Linked DNA regions of Homo sapiens. The protein of the gene in region 1 purifies or fractionates together with the protein of each later gene. This does not show direct contact. Each region holds a gene or a part of one and is shown on either strand. Other genes may lie near its edges. The genes, in order: KCTD12 and PIF1.

What was found.
Region 2: the proteins of KCTD12 (region 1) and PIF1 purify together in Homo sapiens (co-immunoprecipitation; 2 studies listed by BioGRID and IntAct, with this or other methods). This does not show direct contact.

The regions. Positions count from the first base shown.
Region 1 is NC_000013.11:76,883,406-76,893,584, forward strand, and holds the start of KCTD12 (BTB/POZ domain-containing protein KCTD12), read right to left. Parts: upstream 3,001-10,179; 5' UTR 2,744-3,000; coding exon 1,766-2,743; 3' UTR 1-1,765. UniProt on the Homo sapiens protein: Auxiliary subunit of GABA-B receptors that determine the pharmacology and kinetics of the receptor response. Increases agonist potency and markedly alter the G-protein signaling of the receptors by accelerating onset and promoting desensitization.
Region 2 is NC_000015.10:64,806,555-64,822,890, forward strand, and holds the end of PIF1 (ATP-dependent DNA helicase PIF1), read right to left. Parts: intron 16,057-16,336; coding exon 15,924-16,056; intron 15,838-15,923; coding exon 15,712-15,837; intron 14,967-15,711; coding exon 14,813-14,966; intron 14,728-14,812; coding exon 14,613-14,727; intron 14,535-14,612; coding exon 14,428-14,534; intron 13,466-14,427; coding exon of another isoform or gene 13,450-13,465; exon of another isoform or gene 13,433-13,449; coding exon 13,293-13,432; intron 12,670-13,292; coding exon 12,563-12,669; intron 11,791-12,562; coding exon 11,703-11,790; intron 11,538-11,702; coding exon 11,392-11,537; intron 10,212-11,391; coding exon 10,020-10,211; intron 9,804-10,019; coding exon 9,744-9,803; 3' UTR 9,395-9,743; coding exon of another isoform or gene 9,137-9,394; 3' UTR 9,078-9,136; downstream 1-9,077. UniProt on the Homo sapiens protein: DNA-dependent ATPase and 5'-3' DNA helicase required for the maintenance of both mitochondrial and nuclear genome stability. Efficiently unwinds G-quadruplex (G4) DNA structures and forked RNA-DNA hybrids.

The DNA.
Region 1 (10,179 bases):
AATATCCAAAGGACACCTCACAGCATGGAGCATGACGAGGTTTATTTCCCTTCACTTATGGTTTACATAGGATATGCATTGGGAATTTATTCCATGTAAGAGTAAAGGCATAAGGCAACCAGGTCTCCTTCTGTTTCTGTTGCATTTACCTATTATTGGACCATTTTATTGCTCAGCTCACTTTTAAGTACTTATTTGCCTTCATTTAAAAATATTCCATTTTACAGCTATCTACAGATAGGCAGCCCTTGGTGCTGAGTTCTCTGCAGCTCGTCATTTGAAAGGATTCCACTTAACTTCAAACAAACTGCATGAAAGTGGCATTTTCAGGTTTTCAGGTTTGCCCAGAAGTCAACGTTTGCTGGGCTTGGAGAAAATAAGGATTTTTAATAAGTGATCTTAGGTCTAAGTAACCAAAATGAAACTTCTTTTGCGCAATAGATTCCAAAATCAGGATTTATAATCAACAAGAAAATAAAAGTTCAAAAACTAAAACCCTACTGGGTAACTCTTTGGTTAGATTATATATAAGCATTAACAACTCTAAGTTTAGGACTCAAAACAGTAAGTTAAGTAAACTGCCAGGTAAGAGTAGGTCTGTTATTAATCTTTATAAAATACTTGGCATGTTTGCATTTACTATATGATATTTTTTAAATGTGCATATACTCAAACAGATGGTACAAACTTCCAACTTTCAAATCATAAATGACTATGTCTGCTTCTCCCTTCCCACCCTTCCTACCCTTTCCTCCCTCCCCACCCCACCCCGCCCACCAAGTCTTACAGCTAAAGGAAGGTCCTACTGACATTCATTGAAAGAATACAGGCTTTCCTAATACCCACGACGTGCACTATGACCCAGCTCCCTACAGTCACTGCCAGGTGACCTCCTACGGCGCTTGGAGACCTGAGCAGCCTTGCACTCTTAGGCGGCAGCGTCCTTTCTCCCTCTTGCCAGTAACTGCTGCCATGTCAACCAGTGGAATCAAGGGCTTCTGGCGAGCAGCAGCTGAAAAGGGCGCCTCTGCAGGCAGGCGGATCACTTTCTATAAGTTTAAGCTACAGGCTGAGACCTTTTATTCTGTACGAGAAAGGATCCTTTACTGTCCCACGCACTAGATTCTTCTACTTTACGTGTAACTTTTCAAAACTTTATTAGTTTAGTTACTGAACTGCCTCCATGGGGTCCTAATTCCAGGCTCAGAATCTTCCATCCAGCCTTCTAAAACTCTACCTTCAAAAGAGGTCAAAAAGACTGTGTAATGACCTTGTAAAACACTAACCCCAGACAGTGGAACCAATCCTGATCTCTTAAACCCCCAGTGAGTCATAAGAGCTTGAGAAGATTTCAAGGAAATCTTCCGCACATTGGACACGGTCCAATCAGGTTCTGAACAATTCAATCATCCCCCGGTCTGTGGCCACACTCCCCCAATAGATCCAAACTGAAGTACCATCTGGGGGAGGGGTGGTTTGAGGCAGGGAGTAGAGAAAGCATGGAGTGGTAGGTGGGGGTGGGGTGGGGGTTCCTCTGGGTTCTCTCGGTTCAGGAGGTCCAAAGAAGACGAAGCAGCCCAGAGGATTTGCGGCTGCAGGTTCTGTAGTGGAGGGAAGGTGGGCGGACAGGTCTCACCCAGCTACTACTGGAGGGGGAGAATGGGAGGGCAGCAGCCAGGGGACAAAGGTGGGACAAGAGGCTCTGTAATCATCTCTCGGGCAGGAGAAGGACTGGGCGCTGGAGTGGCGAGGGGGTCTGGGGAGCTCACTCCCTGCAGAAGACGTACTCGGTGTAGCTGGTCCAGATCTTGTCCTCGCTCTGGTCGGTGCTGCTGGCAAAGGCGCAGGTGCCCGTGGAGCTGCACGCCACCATGTGGAAGCCCGACTCGGACAGCTTGTCGAAGGCCTGCTCCAGGAAGTTGAACTTGAGGTAATAGCGCGAGGTGTAGCGCTCCGGGGGACGGTCGGGGTCCCGGCTTTCGTTCAGGGTGTCCCCAAACACCTCCTTGGCCAGCGACGTCTTTCCGCAAACGGTGATGCGCGCCACTCGCCGGAACTTGGCGTCCGCCTGCGCGTCCCGCCCGATGGTGTAGGAGCCGCGGTAGCCGATGGTGATGTAGCCCGAGCGCCGGCTGCCGTCCAGCGACTGGGACGGCGTGAGCAGCGGGCCCGCCGCGCCCCCGGACGGACTGCGGCTAGCCAGCTCCAGCGTGGGCGACGGCGCCCCGGCAGAGGCGCCCTCCTGCTGTTCGGGCTCCGAGTAGCCAAGCGGCAGCAGCTCGTCACCCAGCGAGCCCTCCTTGTGCACCCCGCGCCGCGAGGGCGGCGGCCCCGGGCCGGGCTGCTGGGGCGCCCCGAGGCGGCGCACGAGCTCTGGCAGCTCGAAGTACTCGGCCTCGCGCTGCAGCCGGCTGCGCTCGGGGAAGTAGTCGGGCAGCACGAGCTGCAAGTCCCGCAGGTAATCCAGGATGTAGCGGAAGAGGAAGCCGTCCCGGTCCAGAAAGAAGCGGCCTTTGCTGTCCCGGGCCAGCTCCTGCGGCTGCTGCTGCGTGAACATGCGCCAGAGCAGCGAGTCGGGCACCGACACCACCGTGCAGCGCCGGGTCACGTACACCTGGCCCCCCACGTTCAGCTCCACGATGTCGGGGAAGAGCGGTGGCTCCGCGGAGGACGACGAGGAGCCACTGCCGCCCCCGCCGCCGCCCCCGTTGGGTAATCCACGTGTGCTGTCCGCCAGAGCCATGACAGAGAGGTGGCCGGGCCGGGACAGTGGCAGGAAGCCGCGCTGCACTCAGGAGCTGCAACCGCCTTCCCCGGAGCCCCGGAACCCGGACGCTCGCTCAGCCCTGCGCCCCGCCGCCGCCGCCGCCGCCACCGCCGCCACCGCCACCGCCGCCACCTCCTAGAGCCGCGCGGAGCCGAGCGGTGCGAGCGCGCCGCTGTGCGCCCCCTTGAGTTCCAGTGCGCTCCGCCCGCCTTGCCCGCGCGCTCCAGGCGAGTGCCGGGTCGCGGCCCGCGCGCTGCTTAAGTAGAGCCGCCTGCTCTGGTGCCGTGGCGCGCAGGAGGCGTGGGCGGCGGCGGAGCCTCGCTTACCGGGCGAGGGGAGGTGGGGAGCGGGGACTCGATTTGCATCTTAAACGCGGACGCCACGCGGGGCTGCTGGCTCCACCCCGGCTCGCGAGCGCTGGGGGCGCCCGGACTCCCACCCGCTCCCCACCCACCAGCCCCGCCCCGTGGTCCCGCCCAACTTTCTCCCTCTTCCGAAGAGGACCCGCCCGAGACTTGGCGGCTTCGGAAGACAGCTCCTTGGAGGGACAGTCACCGCGCCCCCTCCCCTCTCGCCCCAGCCCGCACCCAAGGACTCTGGAAGGAGGACGTGAACTTTCGGAAGCCTGTCGCCCCGGGAGTGGAAATGCGTGGCCGCCTCCGGCCCTCCCGCCTGCGGAACTGGGCGCTTCCAGCAGTGCAGCTGCGGCCTGCCATCGTTGGTTGTCGTGTCACTGAAAGTAGAGAGACGCGAAAAACCTGGAGAGACGAAAGAGCCGCCCCAGTCCGAGCGCAGCCAGATTTTGTTCAAGTTGCCTTGCAGCCAGCCTGGAAAATAAATAAATAAACCTAGAAACAAAAAGCAAACCTCAGTGTCCCGCAGTAGGATGCTTTACGATAGTTTATTTTCTGGCTGCAGAGACAAAATGAGATGAAGCTTCAAATCTGCTCTTAATTGCAATTCCCTCTTCCCGCAGGGCCTTCGAGGCACTTCACTTCGAAGTGAAGGGGTAAGACTCCGGAACGTTCGGTCTCCGGGTCCCATTCAGCCTTCGTTGAATCGCGCCCTTAGACTCACAACAGTTGCAGATCTAACGTAATTTTTAAAGCCACCTTTGGCGCCTGCATGTTTATCCTTCCAAAAGTCCAGGCGCCCCTTCTCTCCCGCATGCCTCGGTCACTCTTCGGCCCTGTCCAAGTTCCCGTCAGTCTCAGAAAGGGATATTTATATATCTGAAGGCCCTTGTCTGGATCCCATCTCTCAACTCCTGCTGCCTACACGTTTGCTTTTCCCCCTCGGACTGCAGCCCACAGAACCGCCCCCTCCCCCTGGAAGCTTTCCCTGGCTTCCCAGGTGGGTGGGGCCTCTGGATGGCTCCCTACACACTGTCTGCGCTGCTCCCAGCACGTTCTGAAATGTCATATTTATGAGTGATTATCTGATCACTGATTTGGGTATGAAAATAAGTAAGAGCTCCTGAATGCTGCAAAAAGAGAAGAGTGCAGAGGAGGGTGTCAAGAAATGATTGGGTCACTGAATGTTTCTTGTGTACCTGCTATTATTTGCAGGGCACCAGGGAGTGAGGAATGCAAAGGCGAATAATCTCCAAAGCGCTTTCAGTGTAGCCCAATAAGCAAAGGGTCAGGGGTCTGCGCAGTTATCACATCAGTTTGAAGTATAGACCACACATCAGGATAAATCAGGCAAGATCTTTGTTCTTGATAAAATTTATCCTTCTGTGTAACTACCCAGTGAGCTTCACAGTCTCCTCACAGATAAATGTCATTTTTATTTTGAAATGTTTATATCTGCTCAACAATTACCGCGCTCATGTCAGTGTGCTGAAATGAGATCAACCCCCAAACCAGTTATCTTAATTGCAAGTACAGATTTTGATACTGAATGTATTTCAACATTCTTTTTTTGTTGTTGTTCTGTTCTTTGGGATAAATAATAGATAACACAAAACTTCCAAGTCCCAGTGCAGGATTTCGAGGTGGTTGTGCTACTAGGCGTTATATTAGTGTCAGAGACCTGACAAAACCAGCCTCTTTTCTACAAATCCAAGAAAAGCCTTCTTTGTATCAGTTCTGCACATATTTTTGTATAATTACCATTGCTCATTGCATCAGCAAATCCTGCCAGCTCTGTGTTAAAAATCTTTCTAGACTATTAACGTATTTCACCATCTCCCTATCATCACCCTGGACCAAGCCACCATCATCTCTTGCCTGGATTATTGCACTGGTCTCCTAACTGCTTCTACTTCTGCTCCTACAGTCTTGTATCACCAGAACAAAAACAGGGACCCTGCTTATAATCCAAGGCTGGTATGTCACTCTGCTCAGAGCCTGCCAGTGGCTTCCTATCTCAGAAAGAGCAAAATCCAAAGTCCTCTCAGTGGCTTACAAGACTCTACATGTTTGGAGTTATCCCACCAGCACCTCTCTGACACATCTCCTGCCCTGCCCCCAGGAGCTGGCTGGCTTTAGCCACATAGCCCCTTTCTTGTTTTCTCAGGGCCTTTGCACATCCTTGTAAAAGTCTCATTTCTCCTCCCTCCCGTGTTCCTCACCTTGTTCAGGTCCCTCCCTTCTCACCTTCTTCAGGTCTGCCCAGCAAGACCTTTCCTTGATTCCACTTCTTAATGCAGCACAGCCTCACTGCAGCTTCCTCTTCCTTGCCTTATTTGTTGACTCTTTTCCTACATCAGAATATAAACTCCAAGACTTCAGCAGTTTTTGTCTGCTTGGTTCACTGCCACACCCCCACTGCCTAGAACAGAGCTGGTATATTACAGGCATTTGATAAATATCTGTTGCTCACGCAAGCATTCAACCACTATTTATTCAGGGCCTACTACTATATTCCAGGCTGCATGTTAAAAAATAATCACTGCCCACTAGGAGCTTATAGTCTTGCGAGGGAGACAAATAAATATAGTATAAAGATAAGTAAGCCTATTTCAGGTGGTGATAAATGCCACAAAGAAAATAAAATTATAAGATGTGATAGAGGGACTGAGTGTGGAATACTACTTTATACAGAGTGCCTGGGGAAGGCATCTCTGTGAATGTGACATTTGAGCTGAATAATAAGAAAGAGACAGCCATGGGAAGTTTTGGAGGAAGAGCATTCCAGGCACAGGGTCAAACAAGTTAAAGGGGCCTGAGTTATGAGTGAGCTCACATTGAAAGTTTATGTATTGTGTCATCTACTTGTATCCTGTGAATCTCCAAAGTACCCTTGAGATGATCAGTACAGAGTCAAATGTGAGTGATACCGTGTGCTTATTCACTACCTGCAGCCTACTATCATCATTCTCTACATCTTGACATAAGGTAGTCATCAACCACCAGCTAGTCTACTGCAGAAAAGCCATTGGTATTTCCTTATGGAAGCCAGGTAATGCATGAGAGATATAATAATGAATGAAACAGGTGATTTGAAACACAAGGAATGTTTTTCTAGTTAATTTTGTGTGTTCTGTTTCTTGCCTATTGGTTGGTATCACAGAATTCAAAAGGAAATACTACTGGGGAACTCTGATGCTGGGACTTGAGGGCCTGAGTGTTTATAAGAAGAGAGTCATAACTCTTTAGCATCTCCAGTATGTTAAATATGCTTGATTGCAAGGGATTGGGGAGGATTTGGAAACCCACTAGCCCTGTGTTTAGTCTCAAACCAGTTTCTAATGATGGTCATTGCTAATTGATGGTCATTGCTCCTTTTCAAGTAACTCTTTGTATTTTCCTGAATAAGATACAGTGTGCCTGCAAGTAACCTGTCCTTTGATCCTAAAGTGGAGGATACTGGAAACATCTCTGGACCTACATTCTCATCTCATTTGCATCTTCTCCCCCACCTACTGCCTTCTCTTCAAACCAGCTTCCCCTCCCACTCCCCACAGTAATCCTTCTTATCCAAAGTTTCCATTACCATGGTTTCAGTTACCCATGGTCAGCTGTGGTTTGAAAATATTACATGGAAATTCCAGAAATATAACTAATTCATAAATTCAAAATTGCACACCATTCAGAGTAGTGTGATGAAATCTCCCACTGTCCTGCTTCGTCTTGCCCTGGACATGAATATCCACACCTCTACACTCCCAACCCATGAGTCACTTAGTAGCCATCTCAGCTGTCAGATCAACTGTCTTAGTATCACCCTATCACAGTGCTTGTGTTCAAGTAACACTCAGTTTACTTAATAAATGGCCACAAATTACAAGAGTAGTGATGCTGGCAATTCAGATATGCCAAAGAGAAGCCATAAAATGCTGCCTTTAAGTGAAAAGGTGAAAGTTCTCAATTTAATAAGAAAAAAAAAGTTACATCCCAAGGTTGCTAAGATCTATGATAAGAATGTAGACATTGTGAAATTTCTGTGAAATTATGAAGGAAAAATTTGTGCTAGTTTTGCTGTCACACCTCCAAACACAAAACGTATGGCACAGAGTGCATGATAAGTGTGTAGTGAAAATGGAAAAGGCATTAAACTTGTGGATTGAAGACATGAAGAGAAACATGTTCCAATGGACAGCAATCAGGTTCAGTACTACCTACGGTTTCAGTCACCCACTGAGGGTCTTGGAATGTATACCCTTTGTATGAAAGGAGACTACTGTATTCTGCATACCAAAGATTTAAGGAAAGGAATGAGGAACATGAAGAGAAATATAAAGTTAAAGGGGAGGAAGAACTGGTGAAATGAAGTGAGTGCCTTTGAGAATTGAATGAATTTAATATATGTGAAAATGATCTGTACATTGTAAAACACCATTCAAGTGTCAGAATCATTATTTTCCACCACTTATCATGGTGCTTGACAAGTCTTCCCAATAAATACTGAATGAACAAATGAATGGCAGAAACATTAAAATGAACACTATGGGGAAAGGGGAAGAGAGGCAGAATCAGAAATTATCCTGAATAAATATTTATTCCATTTGTCATCCTCCTAATATGTGTGAATCTTTTCTCCATGCAGGCTTTAGAAGTCATTGACTTTTTGCATTTAGAAGGAGAGATTAATTGAATAACATTAAGTGAATCCGGAGGCAAAATGATCTTAATAAAGATTTGGTAAAAGATGTGACAATATTTAACCTGAAGAAAAGAGAACAAAATGTTATATAGGGTACACTGCCAAAATACTAGGTCTAAATTCCAGTTACTCAGGAGGCTGAGGCAGGAGAATTGCTTGAACCTGAGAGGCAGAGGTTGCAGTGAGCCAAGGTCGCACCACTGCACTCCAGCCTAGGCAACAGAGCGAGACCCCATCTCAAAAAACAAAACAAACAAAAAAAAAAAACAGGTCTAGACAGTAAAGAATATCCCAACATTGTATGATTATCTCTAGAGTATGATTTTTATGATTTATAGAACCAAACAAAGAAACAAAAGTTAACAATGTTGATATTTCTATACCCTTAAGATGGTGTTTGGAGCTTATCCAGGAAACAAATAATATAACAAGCATGTATAGAGTACTTACTATGAGCCAGCCCTATTTATAGAACTATACATGTATGAACTCATTTAATCCTAACAATAACTTTATGAGGTTGGTGCTATTACCCAAGTTTTAGATGAGAAACTGAGGCACAGTGAACTAATTTTCCCAAGATCATACAGCAAATAGGTGCTGGAGCTGGGATTTGAACCCAGGCAGTGTAGCCTTAGAATCTGTGCTTTTAAACACTGCATTTTAAATCCCCTTTCCTCTAGGAGTGCTTTACATGTATTAAGAAGTAAGTTATATTATTTTCCCCCTTTACAGATGAGAAACCCAAGGCAAAGAGAAGTAAGGTAACTTGACCAAGATAACACAGCTCTTTATCTCTGCTGGGGGCAGAAATGCTACTCTAAAGTCTACGTGCTTGTGTTCCGCAGTACTGGTAACCAGAAACTCAAAGTAGCCACCCTGAAAGAACTAGGGTTAAGAAAGAGTCAAGTCCTTGGCCCTTATTTCTTCTTTCTGCCTTCTTTTTTCCTTCCAACCTATTTTAGGTTTATGGGTACCTGTGCAGGTTTGTTACACAGGTAAATTGCACGTCGCAGGGGTTTGGTGTACAGATTATTTCATCACCAAAGTAATAAGCATAGTACCTGATAGGTAGTTTTTGGATTCTCACCTTCCATCCAACCTCTACCCTCAAGTAGGCTCCAATGTCTATTGTTCCCTTCCTTGTATCCATGTGTACTTTTACCCAAATAAGAATCTCTATTTGAGCCCCTGGATAGAACTGACACACTATTGTCCTAATCTTTCCCTAATTCAGTCCTGTACACAAAATAAACAAGATTTTATTTCTGGCTCTCTCAAATATCATTACGGTTTGCAAAGCACCAAGTTCCTAGCATGTTCATTTGGCTTTATTCTGATCTCATTAACTCTTGACAAGGATAAAGTGAATCCATGGAAACTGCTGAGATCTAGGTTCCAGTTTCCCAAAGCAAGCAGTATCCACTGGTCTTCTGGGGCTCATAAAATTGAACAAGTGCATTCTACTTGTGGCTTTGCATATCAAACTGAACACAAAAATAGCTGGCCCTCATCACTTGAGTGATTCTGGAACTTCTGACTAAGACTAATTATTAACATCACTGATGTTTCATAAGAATTTGAAAGTCTTGGTTTCCAATCATGATATTAAATTTAGAGAGGAACTATATATAAGTTATCACATTCTAATCACATTCTAGTGTTTTTCTGTTTCGAGTGTTTTCATATTGTCAGGTTGACTTAATTATCACAATTTTGTGAGGTGTTAACCAACCTGTGTTCCAAATGAAGAAAGAAACTCAAAAAGGTTAGGTGACTCACACCTCCTCTCAGGTGGCTGGGATGCAGTGCTGGGATGCACGTGGATGCTTCCTGATTTCATATCCCATGCTCTTTGAACTCTTCAGCAGCCATATCAGCTCCATTTAACACCCAAATGAAGGTTGTCATTCAAAATAATCACCTTGAAGACTATATACTCCTTTGAGGGATGCTGGAATCACTCACCATTTTTGGTACATTTGTTTGGAAATTTTCTTCAAAGCCAATTTACACAAGAATATCACCCTATTATTTTATACTTATGTTAAAGTTGTAGTTGATATCTTTCTAGGGCTCTAAAACAGGGCACCTCACTGCAGGACAGACCCACATGCCTGAAAATAAATTAGGACAAAGCCAGTTTTCATGAATGAAACTAAGGTGATGATCATCGGGTATTCACCTTTTGACATTGGGTTTTAAAGATCTCATCCCTAGAGTTCTCTAATATGCTGAATAGCATTGAGTTTAGGTTACTTAGAAAGAAGGGCTGATTCAACTGCAGAGATTTTAATATGTGGTTCCAGAAAGTCTGCATATTTTATTGTGAGGTTTGCACAAGAAGCCAAGCCACTGGCTAG
Region 2 (16,336 bases), on another chromosome or scaffold:
GGCTCACATGCCTGAGGAGTAAGCTCCTGGTCCCGAGGAGGCAACATGATCTGTAAAAGATCCCTGACCATCTTTTTGAACCCTGGAGAGGGCGTCTCAGTCATATGAGGACCACAGGGGGATTAGCGATGCTTAGAAGGGAGGCCAGGGAGGCAGCCACCTGGGGGAAAGACTAGGAAGAGGGGAAGTGGGAGAGAAGGAAGTAGCAGTGGGGCAGGTCTGAGTCAGGGACCGAAGACCTGGGAAAGGCAGCTCTGGTGGGTCTGGAGAGGAGGCAGAAGAGAGGAAGGCAGGCGGAGGAAGGGTGTGTGCTCAGGGCTTTGAATGATGCCTGAAAAGGGCCTAGAAGTCTTGTGTCACATAGTCCCTGGCACAAGGAGACCTGGCAGAGAAGGGGAGAAAGCGTTAAATCTGGAGCCTGCCAGCTTGGATTTCAGACCCTTCCACTCAGGCTGTGTGACCCTGGGCAAGTTTTTTGCTCTCTCTGAGCCTCAGGTTCTAACAAAGAGCAGTTTTGGTGCATCGTTCACACTGGGTGGGCTGTGAGGTCAGATGTCCATCCAACCTCAGACCCTCCATGGCCCTTGCCGGTCTTCCTGGGTATGCCCCTCCTTTAGCCAAAGCATATATCCCCCCATGCCCCTCCCCCAACGCCTGCAAGAGCTGCCCTGTCCTAGCCTTCTGGGAGTGCCCCAGCCCCTCTGAAGGGGTTCGAGCCAATCCAGGGCCTATGCAATGAGGGACCAGCAGGACTCAGGGGATGGGGGAAAGGACCTTCTCAAGGCTCATTTTGGGAGGGGGAGTACATACCTGCTTCCCCCACCCGTGCTCCCCCATGACCCACTCCATGGGATATTTGGGTTTCCTCCCCTTTCCCGAGCTCAGGCCCTGCTTGCTTTCTCCACAACAAGGAGCGAATGTTATTTAAAAGGAGATCAGGAGATTTGCCTTAAATAGGCATGGAGTGCTGTGCCAGGTCCCAGTAGAGGGGCGGGAGAGGAGGCCATCTTGGCGGAAGGGAGAAAGGAGTGGAGCTGCAAGAGAGAACAACCTCCCAGGAGTGCGCAGAGCCCTGCACAGTTTACCAAGCACAGGCCTAGTCTGCGGGGAGACGCCCCGGTCTTCAGATGCCAGGAGTGTGGAGGTTTTCTGGGAGGCAAGGGGATAGGGCCTGCAGAGTGGGGGGCTGTCTTGAGACCTCCCCTGACACCTGCCCCCACCATCAGTTTCCAGACCTTTGGCCCCTGCCCCCGGGCTGCCCCTGCCTGTCCTCCCAGCCCTAGCTTGTAACTGGATGCCATCCTCACTCTGCACCTTCCCAGGTGAGCTGGGGCTCTGCTTACTGAACCCAACACCCACTGGGGGCGGGGATTGAGGGGGCACCCCTGGGGCGGGCATCTGCCTGGAGGCTGAGGCTGAAGGCGGGAGCTGGAGCTGCGGGGGAGGAGTGGAGATGGGCTGGCTGTCTCATTCACAGCCCCCGCCCCAGGCCTCCTCAGGAATTTAGGGTTCCAATTCCCTATTCAAGGTCACCTTCTAAGCCTTTCAAGCCCCACCCCTCCCATCTTGGCCTGCCAGGGCCAAGGACTCAGGGGCACCCCCCTGCCATTTCTGTCCCAGCAGGTGATGCTCTTGGAATCTTAAGGAAATGGAGTCTGGCCTGTGGAGTTTTGGGGACAGAGCTAGGGGGAAAGGAAGCATCCCATGTTCAGTCCTTTTTTCAAAGGCCCTGAACACCAAGGTGAGGCCTCAGATACCTGGATGCCCAACCTGGATCTGCCATTTACAGCCATATGACCTAGGGCCACCCACCTTCTGTGAGCCTTGACTTCCTCTGTAAACTAGGTCTAAAGATTCCACTGTAGACTGGGCGCGGTGGCTCACACTTGTAATCCCAGCACTTTGGGAGGCTGAGGTGGGCGGATCACCTGAGGCTGGGAGTTCGAGACCAGCCTGACCGACATGGAGAAACCCCGTCTCTACTAAAAATACAAAATTAGCCGGACGTGGTGGTGCATGCCTGTAATCCCAGCTACTCAGGAGGCTGAGGCAGGAGAACTGCTTGAATCCGGGAGGGGGAGGTTGCAGAGAGCCGAGATCACGCCATTGCACTCCAGCCTGGGCAACAAGAGCGAAATTCCGTCTCAAAAAAAAAAAAAAATTCCACTTTAGAGTTGTCGAAGTCGCTTTCATAAGAAAATGGGCAGAAGACAGAAGGGGGATTATGCCCAAGTGCACTAACTGACCGGGACCTGTACCTCACGTGTGTTGCGGGAGGCAGAGTGGGGAGATTTCATCCTCCCCTTCCCCATGGTGGGTGGGCGCAGCCCAGGTCCTCCAGAAGGCCAGACAGGAAGGAAGGCTTTGTGAAAGATGGCATTCATTTACTCTGGGCTGCTGTGAATTCTCTTTGTTATTCCCCAGAGGCTGCTCAAGAGGGGGTTAATGGGGCGGGGGATGGCCCCTTCAGGTGACAATAATCAAGACAAATAAATAAGAGCTAACCTTGAGGGTTTGCTGCATCCCTGGCCTGACTCCAGCTCTTCTGTCTTCCTAACTCCATCCATGTTTGATCGGCTTTATCCCCATTTCACCAACGATGAAACCAGAGCTCAGATTTAAGCAGAATAACCACAGTCACACAGTCGGGAACTGATGGGGCCAGTGTTTAAACACAGGAATCTGGCTTCAGGGCTCTCTGCTGACTTTGCAAAAATCCCAGGACCCTTTATTTGGGACTTGGGTTCCAGATACAGCTTGCAGTGTGGCCATAGCCAAGTCACCTAACCTCTCAGAAGTTAGGTTTCTCAGCCATGCGCAGTGGTTCATGCCTGTAATCCCAGCACTTTGGGAGAACAAGGCAGGCAGATCACTTGAGGTCGGGAGTTCCAGACCAACCTGACCAACGTGGAGAAACCCCGTCTCTACTAAAAATACAAAATTAGCCAGCTGTAATCCCAGCTACTCGGGAGGCTGAGGCAGGAGAATTGCTTGAACCCATGAGGCAGAGGTTGCAGTGTGCTGAGATGGCACCACTGCACTGCAACCTGGGTGACAGAGCAAGACTGTCTCAAAAAAAACAAAAAAACAAAAAAGAGAAAAGAAAAAGAAATTAGGTTTCTCTCTTTATAAAATGGGGACAATTGTCCCAACCTCCCAGGGTTATTGTGAAAAACAAACTAGAGGGTTAATGAGGCCGGGCATGGTGGCTCGCCCCTGTAATCCCAATGCTTTGGGAGGCTGAGGCAGGAGTATTGCTTGAGCTCAGGAGTTCGAGGCTGCAGCAAGCTCTGACTGCGTCACTGCACTCCAACCTGGGTGACAGAGCTAGACCCTATCTCAAAAACAAAAACAAACCAACAAGAGGGTTAATGAGCACAAAGCAGATAATCTGATGGAAGATTATTTAAAACTTCCCTGCTCTACACTAACTCAGCCCCCACCTCCTAAAGTGTCCATGCACCCCCCACCTAAGCCCAGAGACTGGGAGACAAAGGCTCTGCGGTTCCCTGGGAAAGGACTGAATGACCAATTGGCGCCACCTAGTGGTCTGCAGTGCATGGGGAGCGGGAGGGCCCGGCTGCTCCGGGATTGGGGGTTAAGTAAGATCATTAGCCCAGTGCGGATGGGAAAAATATACCAGGACGTCAGAAAGGATGGGGTCAGGCCTAGTTGGCACCCCACTGAAGACAGGGTGAAGGAGCGCACAGGGCTCAGGGTTCTATTCTAGTTCCAGTTCTGCCACTAAGAACCTCTCCAGGCCTCAGCTACCTCCTTTGCAGAATGGGAGTAAACATTCCTTACCTCTCAGGTCACTGTCCAAGCCTTTGTTCACTTATGAAACATTTAATGAAGCATCTGCTTTCAAAAGTCATCCTGCTGAGGGTTGTGAGGACACAAAGACATCTCAGCTGTGTCTCTCGGGATCAAGGGATCCGCTTCATCCTAGCAGGGAGACTGAGCTGTAAATTGCTCACTACCCTCAGATGCAGATCCCAGGGGACACTGAGGAGGGAGCATAAGGCACAGGAGGCAAGTGGAGGGACAGCAGGTAGTGGGACTCCCCCTCCAAGGGTGAATGTCTTTGAGAAGTGGCAGGAACTGTGACAAGTCAGGTCATAAGATTATCTTTCTGAGGGCCATCGCCCCGCCCCTCTTGCCTGGCCCCCTGCCTGCCTCCCAGCTGGGGACTGGATCGCCCTGGGCTGAGCCCCCTACTCTGGGCTCAGCCCCCTCAGGGCCAGGCCAGCCTCCCCACATACCACCTTCTCTTGCATTAAAGCCTTTAAAGTGGACCATAGGTCCATCAAGGATAGTTCACATCTCTGTGCATTTGCACTGTGTAGCTCCTCTCTCCAAACACCTTTTCTCCAACTCGTCCACCTGGCAAAGTCAACTCCAGCCTTCCTGTGGGAGAGTGGAGAGGAGAGTGCGAAATCCCCCAACTAGGAAGGAAACAGAAATGAAGGGGTGCCCCCTGCCCCCATCAGCAGTGGCACAGCCTGTAAGAATGTGAAATATACATTTGGTCTTCATCCCCATTTCCTGGCATACAACTCCTAAAATCCTTGGAATCTCCAAAGTGATAAGTGTCTTTTTGTATGCTGATGATTGCCTGATGGCCGGCAGCCCCTAGGCAGCTTCAGGATGGGGCTGGTCACCAGAAAGACCAGGGCAGGATTAGAGGGTTGGGACTTTCAGCCCCACCCTATGACCTCAGGGGAGGGGAGGGAGCTGAAAGTTAAATTGATGACCAATGGTTAATCAATCATGCTTACATAATGAATTCTCCATAAAAGGCCCCAAAGCAGAGGTTCTAAGAGCTTCTGGGTAGCTGAGCAAGTGGATATTAGTGGAGGAAGGCTTTCCCACAGAGGGAAGCTCCACACCCCTTCCCCCACGTATCCTTTTCTAATAAAGTGATAAATGTGTTTCCCTGAGTTCTGTAACTCACTTTAGGAAATTAATCAAACCAAAAGAGGGGGGTCTTGGGAACCCCAACTTGAAGCCAGTCGGTCAGAAGTTCCAGAGGCCCAGACTTGTGACTGTCTGAAGGGGCTGTCAGTTTTGGTGACTGAGTCCTCAACCTGTGGGATCTGAGGCTGCCTCCAGGTAGATAGCTTCAGAATTAAATTAGAGGACACCCAGCTAGTGTCCGCTACAGAATTGCTTGTTTGTTGATGGGAAGAAGTCCCTGCATTTGGTCACAGAAGTCTTCTCTCTGTGTTAATTGTTGTTGCTGTTGAGAGAACAGGAAAAAGCAGTTGGAGTTTTTCCACCCACACCCTGCTATATGAGGGCAGCTTTCTTGGGCAGGTAGCAAGTCCTGGTCGCCTAAGGGTAAGCTCTCTACCTTCCTTATTTCTTTGTTCATTCCCTTGCTGTCTGCCTGCCCCTTTCCATGTGCTGGGTGTGTGTGTGTGTGTGTGTGTGTGTGTGTGTGTGTGTGTGTGTGTGTGTGTGTATTTTTGCTTTGTTTTGTTTTGAGCTGGAGTCTCACTCTGTTACCCAGCCTGAGTTTCAGTGACATGATATCTTGGCTCACTGCAACCTCTGCCCCCTGGGCTCAAGTGATCCTCCCACTTCAGCCTCCTGGGACCACAGACACGCACCACCATGCCTGGTTAATTTTTTGTATTTTTGGTAGAGATGGGTTTCACCTTGTTGCCCAGGCTGGTCTCAAACTCCTGATTTCAAGTGATTCACCCACCTCAGCCTCCCAAAGTGCCGGGATTACAGGTGCGAGCCACCGTATATGGCTCTCCCTGTGCTTCTTTGCCTCAAATCCAGAAGTTATCTGAGGACACAGTCTTTCCTGGCCTTTGCTTCACAGGTAAAGTTCCTTGAGAGGATGATGCTGGGGGGAAGGAGAGGCAGAGAGAAGGAGGGTTCCATAGACTGGGGAGGGGCAAGTGGTCAGAGGGTCCTCTGGGAGCACCACAGGGAGGTGGCAGGGGCCCAGAGGGCCTGGCATGAGGTACTGGAGAGTCTCAGAAAGCCTCCCACCCCATCCCAGGGCCCAGGCTGAGTTACTGCCTATGGATGGTGATCAGGGCGGGCCCTGAAGATGAGAGCGGCTCCTATAAGCCCCACTCTCATTTGACCCTGGGGATTGAGGAGCCTCCTGTCTGACTGAGATAGGGTTTCCCTACACCCCTCGGGATACAGGCTCAAAGTTAAGTTAAATTAGATGTCAAGAAAATAGAGAGCCGTGAGGTTTCTTGCACACCTCATAAAATAATCCACTATTGTGATCTGGCATGCGGGTCAGGAATGTCTGGAGCTCACCCACCATGTGGAACTCACTTGTCTTCCTCTGGGGGCCTTCCAGAGAGCATCTTCACCATGAGAAGGGATTGCTAAGGAGAGGACTTTCCGGTGCCCAGGTAGTCTCACGAGAAAGACATTTTATATAGCAGGACAGATGCATATGAGACTGGGAAAAGCTGTGATCAGCCCCTGCGGAAGGGGAAGGGGCTGGGTGAGTGGGATGCCTCAGCCATGTGTGGAGGATGGAGTCAGAGAGAGGAGTCCCAGGTGAGGATGCAGAAGATAACTGCATCACCGGACCCTCAGACATCCCCAACAACCCGGCCTTCGGGGGTGATTAGAGAGTCATCCTGGACAGAATCACTAGGCCCTCTTGCAACTTGATGAAACATTTGGCCTCTTGCCAGTAGCCACAGGACTTGCATGGGAGACCAAGGTCACCCAGCCCCATACCCGCCTTTAGGTCTGAACTGAATCGGGGGAGGAGGTAGCAGAGTGCAGAGCTCCTGCCCCTGGCAGCTGTGCTCAGTGTCTGGTGGCGGCTGCAAAGGTCTTCCTGGCCTGACTGCTCCCAGCTCTACTCCTGCCAGTGGCTCTAGCCTTTCTGATTCCTATTTGTTTCCAAGCCTAGTTTTCTGGGCTTCATATCAGTTCTTTGAGATAGCCTGTTGTTATCTTCCTTTCCTGCTTCAATTATCCTGAGTCAGTTTCTCCTCTTTCCATCCAAGACCACCGAAGGTTGCAGAGCTGTTAGAGAATATGAGATAGTGCTATCTGGGCTGAACTGGGTGGTCCCCAGACCGTGTGTTCAGTAGAAGGAAAGAGTGAAAGCAGCAAAGTGCAACCAGATTGTAACTGCCCTGAGGGCAGGGCCTCAGTGTGACCTGCTCACAGCTGGACCTGGGAGAAGGGATGTGTTGCATGGGGAAATTGGGAACATCTGACATATAAATGGCACCACATTTAAAGACCCCCATGGTTGCCCACTTGTTGTGGGGTAGGGGAAGGAGGTGTCACTCTGGTGGGCTTGTTTTCTGCTCCTAAGAGTGTCTTCTGTTTGGAACAGAGAAAAGAAATTGTGTCACAGAAAAACAATTGACTCAGCCGGGCGCAGTTGGGAGGCCAAGGTGGGCAGATAACAAGGTCAGGAGATCGAGACCATCCTGGCCAACATGGTGAAACCCTGTCTCTACTAAAAATACAAAAATTAGCTAGACTTGGTGGCATGTGCCTGTAATCCCAGCTCTTTGGGAGGCTGAGGCAGGAGAATCGCTTGAACCAGGGAGGCAGAGGTTGCAGTGAGCTGAGATCGTGCCACTGCACTCCAGCACTCCATCCTGGCAACAGAGCGAGACTCTGTCTCAAAAAAAAAAAAAAAAAATTGACTTCTCCAGGTCAGGGAGGGTGGCACCACCATGCCCAGCTAATTTTTGTAGACATGGGGTTTCACCATGTTGGCCAGGCTGGTCTTGAACCCCTGACCTCAAGCCTCCAGAGTTCCTCCTGGGACTACACCACTGTGCCCGGCAAATTTTTGTTTTTTGGTAGAGACAAGGGCTTCATCATGTTGCCCAGGCTGGTCTCGAACTCCTGGGCTCAAGCAATCCACCCGCCTTGGCCTCCCAATATGCTGGGATTACAAGTGTGAGCCACCTTATCAGGCCATCTTTTTTTTTTTTTTTTTTTTTTTGAGAGAGAGTCTCTCTCTGTCACCCAGGCTGGAGTGCAGTGGTGCAATCTCAGCTCACTGCAAGCTCCGCCTCCCGGGTTCACTCCATTCTCAGCTTCCAGAGTAGCTGGGACTACGGGCGCCCACCACCATGCCCAGCTAATTTTTTTGTATTTGTAGTAGAGACGGGGTTTCACTGTGTTAGCCAGGATGGTCTCCATCTCCTGACCTCGTGATCCGCCCGCCTTGGCCTCCCAAAGTGCTGGGGATTACAGGCGTGAGCCACTGCGCCCGGCCCCAGCCACCTTTTTTATTAATCTGACACCTGTAGCTGCCAATGCATGCCTCCATCATAACCCATATTTACCACCCAGAATCGATACCTTTTCACTCACAAGCAGAGAATCTTAGTTTTAGCTAGCCTATGAGGACCCCTGGGCAATTTCCATCAGGCTTTTTGAAAAACTGAAGTTAGTTTGTTGATGATCAGGTTCAAGCTGGGGAGACCATCAAGGCTCAAACTGAGAAATTTCAACCCAGGCTCCTAGCAAATGCAGCAACATATAGCAGGCCTGTTTGTTTCCCACCACGTGAATTCTCTAGTATGTCTGACTATTGGGTGATGGTAACTCACCTTCACCAAATGACAACGTCATTTCTGTTTTGTTTTTTTTTTGAGACAGAGTTTCACTCTTGTTGCCTAGGCTGCAGTGCAATGACGCAATCTCAGCTCACTGCAACCTCCACTTCCCCACCTCCCGGGTTCAAGTGATTCTCCTGCCTCAGCCTCCTGAGTAGCTGGGATTACAGGCATGCACCACCATGCCTGGCTAATTTTGTATTTTTACTAGAGATGGGGTTTCTCCATGTTAGTCAGGCTGGTCTCGAACTCCCGATCTCAGGTGATCCACCCGCCTCGGCCTCCCAAAGTTCTGCGATTACAGGCGTGAGCCATCATGCCCGGTGACAATGTCATTTTATTGCTAGTCACCAACATCAGATAACTCAGCTTTTCAAACGACCAGTGATACTAAGACCACCTCACAGAAGGGTGTGATCTCAGCCACTGTGGCCTAAACAAACACGTGTGTGCACATGCACAAGTGAGAGGGGGAGAGAGAGGAGGCAGGAGGCACAGTTTTTACACAATTCTCTAGTTTATTTGTCCGAAATAAATACAACCTGAGAACATCCATTTCAATGTCCCCAAACACTATTTATCCCCTGAAAAAGCAGCTTAAAATATGGGTGCACATTTTGCAGCTTATGTTCTTTGGTTAGGCTCTGAAGGGTGTTTGTTCTGGGCTGGGCTAGGCTGGGCCTAGCTGTAGAGACACACCTAAGTTCCGTTCTCTGTTTGGAGGCTGCACCCAGCCTGAGTCCCCACCAGTCCCCTCCAAGAGCCCTGATGCTGCTTCCGGAGCACCTGTCTTCATTGCCTCTCCCTTCTGCAGCCTGAAAGGAGGGATGTTCAGGACTCTGCAGCTCTGTGTCCAGCCCTTGCAGAGAGCTTTGTCCTCTGACATCAGCTACCACACAGGCTCATTCTCAACTGGCACAGAAAGGGTTACTTCTGACCCTACAGCAGCTTACCCAGGGCAAAGTGAGAGAAACTGAAGCACAGCTGGTATATGGGTTTAAAGTACTCTCCCTTTAACCCTGCCAGGAGGCTGAGAGTCCCTAAAAAATACAGAAGGGGACACTGCCTGCCTACTCCAGTTATTCCCTGGGGCCCTGGGCCACTAGGGAGCAGGAGGACGGGGAGGCCACAGGCCACCCTTTGTCTTCTCTTTGTGGGTGAGGCTCAGAGGATTGGGTCCATGTTCTCCTGGTCTGAGGCTGCCTCATCATCATCTGGGGACTCCTGGATCAGAGCCAGAGAAGCCCAGTCATGGGTTTGTGCTGTTCCCCAGGACCATAACCTGGGGGCCAGCATCTCTTTCCTTTTGCCCTCACCCCTAAAGGAGCCAGCAGAGGGCTTTTCTGCCCCCACCCCAGGTCCCACTGGGCCGGCGCTCCCTCTGTCCTAGCTCCCACCCTGCCCGTGGCCACAGCCCACCACTGGATGACTCCCTCTTACCAGACTGAGGCTCCTGCCCCGCCGCAGGGTGGCATAGAAGTGCAGCACACGGGGGTCACAGCGAACCGCCATGGGGTCAAAGTCCAGCACACGTAGGCCCTGCAGGCTGCGGGCCCGAGAAAGGGCCACATAGGCCTGGCCACTGGCAAACACACGGCCCAGAGAAATCTCCACACAATCCAGGGTCATGCCCTGGGGGATGCAGGGACAGAGATGGAGTCAGCTCAGCCTTAAGTCCCTTGCCCCGAAAGGCCTGACCCTTTACCAGCCCTGCTACTGCCCCTGGATCTCCTCGTCCAGTCCAGAGAGTCTCTAGACAGAGGGAGAGCATGACAGCAGGTGGCTGTCTGAGTAGGAGGGGGACCGGGAGACAGATCCAGGTAAGAGTTGAGGGATGGAGTGAAAGGAAAGCACTCAGGCTCTGGGTCAGACAGGCGTGGAGCTGAATCCAGGCTGCCACTCACTAACTGTGTGACATGGGACACATGAGCCCTGGTTTCTTTCTGTGCAAAATAGGATTATTCATTATATCTATACTTTATACTTGATACAGTGGTTGTATACAATTTATACAATTTTACGTATCTAGTGGTGGCTTAGAAAATGGTGGGGCAGGAGATGGCAGAGGGGAAGTGAATGTATCCAGGAAAGGGAGAGGAGGTGGACTTGGAAATTCACTAAAGAAAAGTTTATTCTGGGCTGGGTGTGGTGGCTCACGCCTATAATCTCGGCACTTTGGGAGGCCGAGGCGGGCAGATGACCTGAGTTCGAGACCAGCCTGGCCAACATGGCAAAACCCCATCTCTACTAAAAATACAAAAAATTAGCCAGGCGTGGTGGCGGCCGCCTGTAGCCCAGCTACTCGGGAGGCTGAGGCAGGAGAATGGTGTGAACCTGGGAGGCGGAGCTTGCAGTGAGCCGAGATCACTGCACTCCAGCCTGGGCGACAGAGCAAGACTCTGTCTCAAAAACTAAACTAAACTAAAATAAAATAAAAAAAGACACATAGGCCAGGCACGGTGGCTCACACCTGTAATCCCAGCACTTTGGGAGGCTGAGGTGAGTGGATCACCAGGTCAGGAGATTGAGGCCATCCTGGCCAACAAAGTGAAACCTCATCTTTACTAAAAATACAAAAATTAGCCAGGCGTGGTGGCATGCGCCTGTAGTCCCAGCTACTCAGGAGGCTGAGGCAGGAGAATCTCTTGAACCTGGGAGGTGGAGGTTGCAGTGAGCCAAGATCGCGCCACTGCACTCCAGCGTGGGCGACAGAGCAAGACTCTGTCTCAAAAATAAAAAAAAGACACATAGACTGCAACATGCCTGACCTCCCTCTGCCCTCCCTGTCCCTGCCCCCCACACCGGTGCTCACTTGGCTCTTGTGGATGGACATCGCCCAGGCCAGCTGGAGGGGCAGCTGCTGCCGACTGAGGAGCTGGCCCCCGGTGGCCTGCACCGTCCAGCGGTCAGCGTGGATGACCTCAGTGACTCCACACAGGAACCGCACCTGGGGTAGCCCTAAGGAGAGCATGGAGCAGTCCAACTTTAGCTCTGCTTCAGGGCTCTGAGGTGAGGAGCAGGGGCCTTTGGAGCTTTCCTTCCTAGTCTTTTTCTCCCCCCACCATTCCCGGGGCCATGCTGCAAAGCCCCGTAGCAGGACTGCCACCTCCTCCCAACACTTACCTCTCCCTTCTGCCTCGAACCCAACTACCACCCCTCGGGCACCATTCACCAGGCCCCGAGACACCGATAAGTTTTTCACCAGCATCACCTGCAAGGGAGAGAGAGGAATGGACAGCAGCCCCCCTACCCATGCCTGGTCTTAGCTTCGCCATGGCTGTTCTCAGAGGCTGAGGGCAGGGAGCTGTCATGGGGACACTGAATCCCAATCCTTAGCTCTGCCACTGGCTGCCTGTGACCCCTGGGGCAAGTTGCCTTATCTTCCTCGGTCCCAATTTTTCTTTATGTCAAAGAGGAATAATATTTGCTCAATTTGCCCCAGAAGGAGGTGGTAAGGGATCAATAAGGCAACCTCTATCACAGGGCTTTGAAAATGATTGGCTTGGTTATAGGTACATCTGTGGACCACAGATCTTGAGGGATGGCCTCTAGGTCCTGCCACCCCTCTCAGATACACTGTGCCTGCATTTTCCCCTTGGGTGCCCTAAGGAAAATCTTCTGCCCACCCCCAACATTGAGGGAGGAATCAGGACTGTCTCCTGTTTATAAAGTATACTACAGAAGACAGCTGTGTGGGGTAGGTATTTCATTCCCCATTTTTAGGGATGAGGGGACAGAGCTTCAGCAAGGGAAAGAAATTTGCCCAAAACAACACTGCTTGGAGGACCTCCTGGTGTAGGAAGAGAAAAACAGTAGAAAGCTTAAGATGGGAAGGTGGGTGGGAACAGGAGGCAGGGAGGTTTTCAGTGTGGTCAAAGCTGGGCCCACTGGCTGCAGAGTGGCCTGGGCAGAGGGGTAGGGATCAGCAAGGCCCATGCGGGACAGCCCAAGCTCCCAGGGGCTAGGCCCTGCTTCCCACTCACCTGGGCCCCCAGCTTTAGTTGAAGGAGCTGGCTAACAGGACACTGGGCATCCAGGGTACTGGCCAGCTCAGGGTTGCTGTCCATAGCCTCAAATCTGTGTACCTTACCTGGAGAAAAAGAGTTGAGCAAACAGATCACAAATCACTGACTTGTGACTCAGCATCCCAAAAAAGACTTTTTTTAAATTTTAATTTAATTTAATTTTATTTTTTGAGAAGGAGTTTCGCTCTGTTGCCCAGACTGGAGTGCAAAGGCGTGATCTCGGCTCACTGCAACCTCTGCCTCCTGGGTTCAAGCAATTCTCCTCAGCCTCCCGAATAGCTGGGATTACAGGTGCCCACTACCACATCTGGCTAATTTTTTTCTATTTTTAGTAGAGATGGGGTTTTGCCATGTTGGGCAGGCTGGTCTCGAACTGCTGGCTTCAGGTGATCTGCCTGTCTCGGCTTCCCAAAGTGCTGGAATTACAGGTATGACCCACCGCTCCCAGCCTCCAAAAAAAACTATTAGACCAGAGCACGGGGGTAGGGAGTAGAGGCAGCGCAGGCCTGGGGGGCTGTGGAATTTAGTTCATCACACCTCTCAAAGTCACAGTTGCATTTGCAAATATGAGGGCCTTTATGGCTTCAGAGGTTGGGGGCCTAGGACCCAGAGGCCCAGGTTGCCTGGGGGCTACATCTGCTTATAACTCTTCCCAGCTGGTCTTGCCCAGCCCAGGCTCCCTGCTCACCTGGCAGCTCCTGAAGCCGCCTCTCGTTGGTGAGGGCCACATCATCCTGGTGGGTGCAGAGCCTCGTGGCCACAATCCCATCTCGCCCCACCTTGTGGGAAGCTGTGGCCTGGAGCTGGCGGGTCACCTCATCTGAACACCTGTTGGGGCTGGACTGTCAGGGCAGAGCCCACCTGTGCAGCAGGGGAGGTGGGGAACATGGGCAGGATGGCTCAAGCAGCAGGCCATGGGTCAGGCCTTGGGACTGGAAGAGGGCACCAGGGAAGAGTTGCTGCCCCCTCAAGCTGGCCAACCTGTCCCTTCCAAACTTGGACCCCAAACATGGGGAATAAGCAGGGGCAGGGTACTGAGCTTTGATCACATGTGGGCACCCTTCCCTGTGCTGCCCCAGGTCAGAGCTGGCCACCCTCGCACTCCATAATACTCCTGAGGAAGTTGGCTATGATGAGTGAGCACAGGCTGGAGATTTGCAGGACCCAGATTGGCCTCCAGGGTACAATCTTCTATCCACTTGCCTCCTACCTTGGGTGAAAAATCTAGCTTATGTTTCTGTTTTGTTTTTGTTTTTTGAGACGGAGTCTCGCTCTGTCACCAGGCTGCAGTGCAGTGGCATGATCTTGGCTCACTGCAACCTCTGCCTCCCTGGTTTAAGCGATTCTCCTGCCTCAGCCTCCCAAGTAGCTGGGACTACAGGTGCGTGCCACCACGCCCAGCTAATTTTTGTATTTTTAGTAGAGACTGGGTTTCACCAGGTTGGCCAGGCTGGTCTCAAACTCCTGATCTTGTGATCCGCCTGCCTCAGCCTCCCAAAGTGCTGGGATTACAGGCGTGAGCCACCGTGCCCAGCCCCTGACACCTACTTTATGCCAGGCCTTGTGCTAGGTGATGGAGACCCAACCCTGAGGGAGGCTAGGTCCCAGCACTCAGAGCAACCATCTCCTATGGTGCCATGATGGTCTTGACTACAATCCATCCTGAGTTGTCCAGTGCCCTGCCCAAGGCTCCTCTTCCTGCATGGAGTGCTTGCTCCTGAGGGTAACAATTCTACCCCTTCTGTGAGTCCCTCTCTGTGTTCCACTGTGGCCCATGCCTGGATCCTCATCCCATAGCCCCTTCCCCAACCAGCAGAGCTCACCTGCCTAGCCTCACGGCCTGCAGTAGAGAGATGAAGGTCTGGTCTGCCTGCCTCCACACCTTGGTCAGCTCCAGGGTCACTGGCACACACCTCTTCCAGCTCTTGGACTGGTGGGGGCAGGGTGGGGGTGGGTCAAGGAGCAGAGCAGACCCCCAAGGAGAGCAGAGCTAGGAGGTGAGTAATACCTGGAAGCAGAACCGTGGGGGCTGGGAGCCCTTGGTCACAGGTGGCAGCTGCAGAAAGTCCCCACAGATGATGAGCTGGATCCCTCCGAATGGCTTGTTCTGCTGCCGGACAGCTCTGGAGAGGAGCGTGGGGTGCTTTAGGGGCACACAGAAGACCACCAGGTCCCAGTTCTCACCTGCTGCCCTCTGAACATACTGACCTGGCCACGGCCTCCAGTTTGTCAAACAGGTCTGCCTCCACCATTGAGATCTCGTCAATGACCAACCGCTGGCAGTTCAGCCAGCCCTGCCGCACGCCTGGCCTTTGGGCCAGGGCCACACACTGGGCTAGAGGAGCCTGGCCTGAGCCGATGCCTGTGAGTGACACTATTCAGCCTGGGCTAATACCCAAAGCCTCTCTTTTTTTTTTTTTTTTTTTTTTTTGAGAGAAGGTCTCTTTCTGTCACCCAGGCTGAAGTGCAGTGGCACGATCTTGGCTCACTGTAACCTGGGCCTCATGGGCTCAAGCGATCCTCCCACCTCAACCTCCATAGTAGCTGGGACTACAGGCACACACCACCATGCTCAGCTAATTTTGTTTTGTTTTGTTTTGAGATGGAGTCTCGCTGTGTCGCCCAGGCTCAAGTGCAGTGGCGTGATCTCGGCTCACTGCAAGCTCTGCCTCCTGGGTTCACGCCATTCTCCTGCCTCAGCCTCCAGAGTAGCTGGGACTACAGGCGCTTGCCACCATGCCTGGCTAATTTTTTTGTATTTTTAGTAGAGACAGGGTTTTACCGTGTTAGCCAGGATAGTCTTGATCTCCTGACCTTGTGATCCGCCTGCCTCGGCCTCCCAAAGTGCTGGGATTACAGGCGTGAGCCACTGCGCCCGGCCGCTAATTTTTAAATTTTGTGGAGACAGGGTTTACTGTGTTGGCCAGGCTGGTCTCAAACTCCTGGGCTCAAGCGATCCTCCCACCTTGGCCTCCTAAAGTTTTGGGATTACAAGAGTGAGCCACGGCGCCCAGCCCCCAAAACTCCCTCTTTATGCAGACCTCCCCTCTCTCCCTTCCCAGAAGCTGGGCTTGCTCTTAGCTCAAGCCCTAGGGGTTCCTACTTACCTGCAAAGGCATGGAGGGTGGTGCCCCCGATGTGGCAGGCTGCCACCCCAGTGCTGGCAGTGGCCACAGTGCCTGTGGGGGGCAGTGAGCCCAGGATTCGCTTTAGCAGATATGACTTCCCTGTTCCTGGACAGGGGCAAAGTTAGACAGGTCTCCCTGTTCCTCTATCCCACCCCACCACTGTCCCCCTACCTCCTCTCTGCCCCCACTACCTGCACTCCCAGTGAAGAAGATGCTCTGGCCTTTCAGGACGGCCCTCAGCACAGCAGCCTGTTCCTCAGAAAGCTGTGGCTTGGTGGAGGGCAAGCTCAGCCTCTTCACAGGCAGGGGCCACCTTGGGGCTTCCTGGGGGGAACAGAGCTATCTCAGAGCATCCTCCCACCCGCTAGGCATTGCCCCCACCCTTCTTGGCCCATGTGCAATGCTGGGCCTGGTAACCCTTTGTCCTCTACTGCCTTCATTCCATGGAGCTCTTGGGTTTGCCTGGAGAGCTTGCCAGCAACTATTGGGGTCCCGATCTCTCCTTGTGCCCTGAAGACCCCCATTGTCCAGTCCTGGGCAGACCACACCAGTGTGGTCTACACCCTCCCTTAGCTCCTTCCCCTGGGTTCCCTAACCCTTCTCA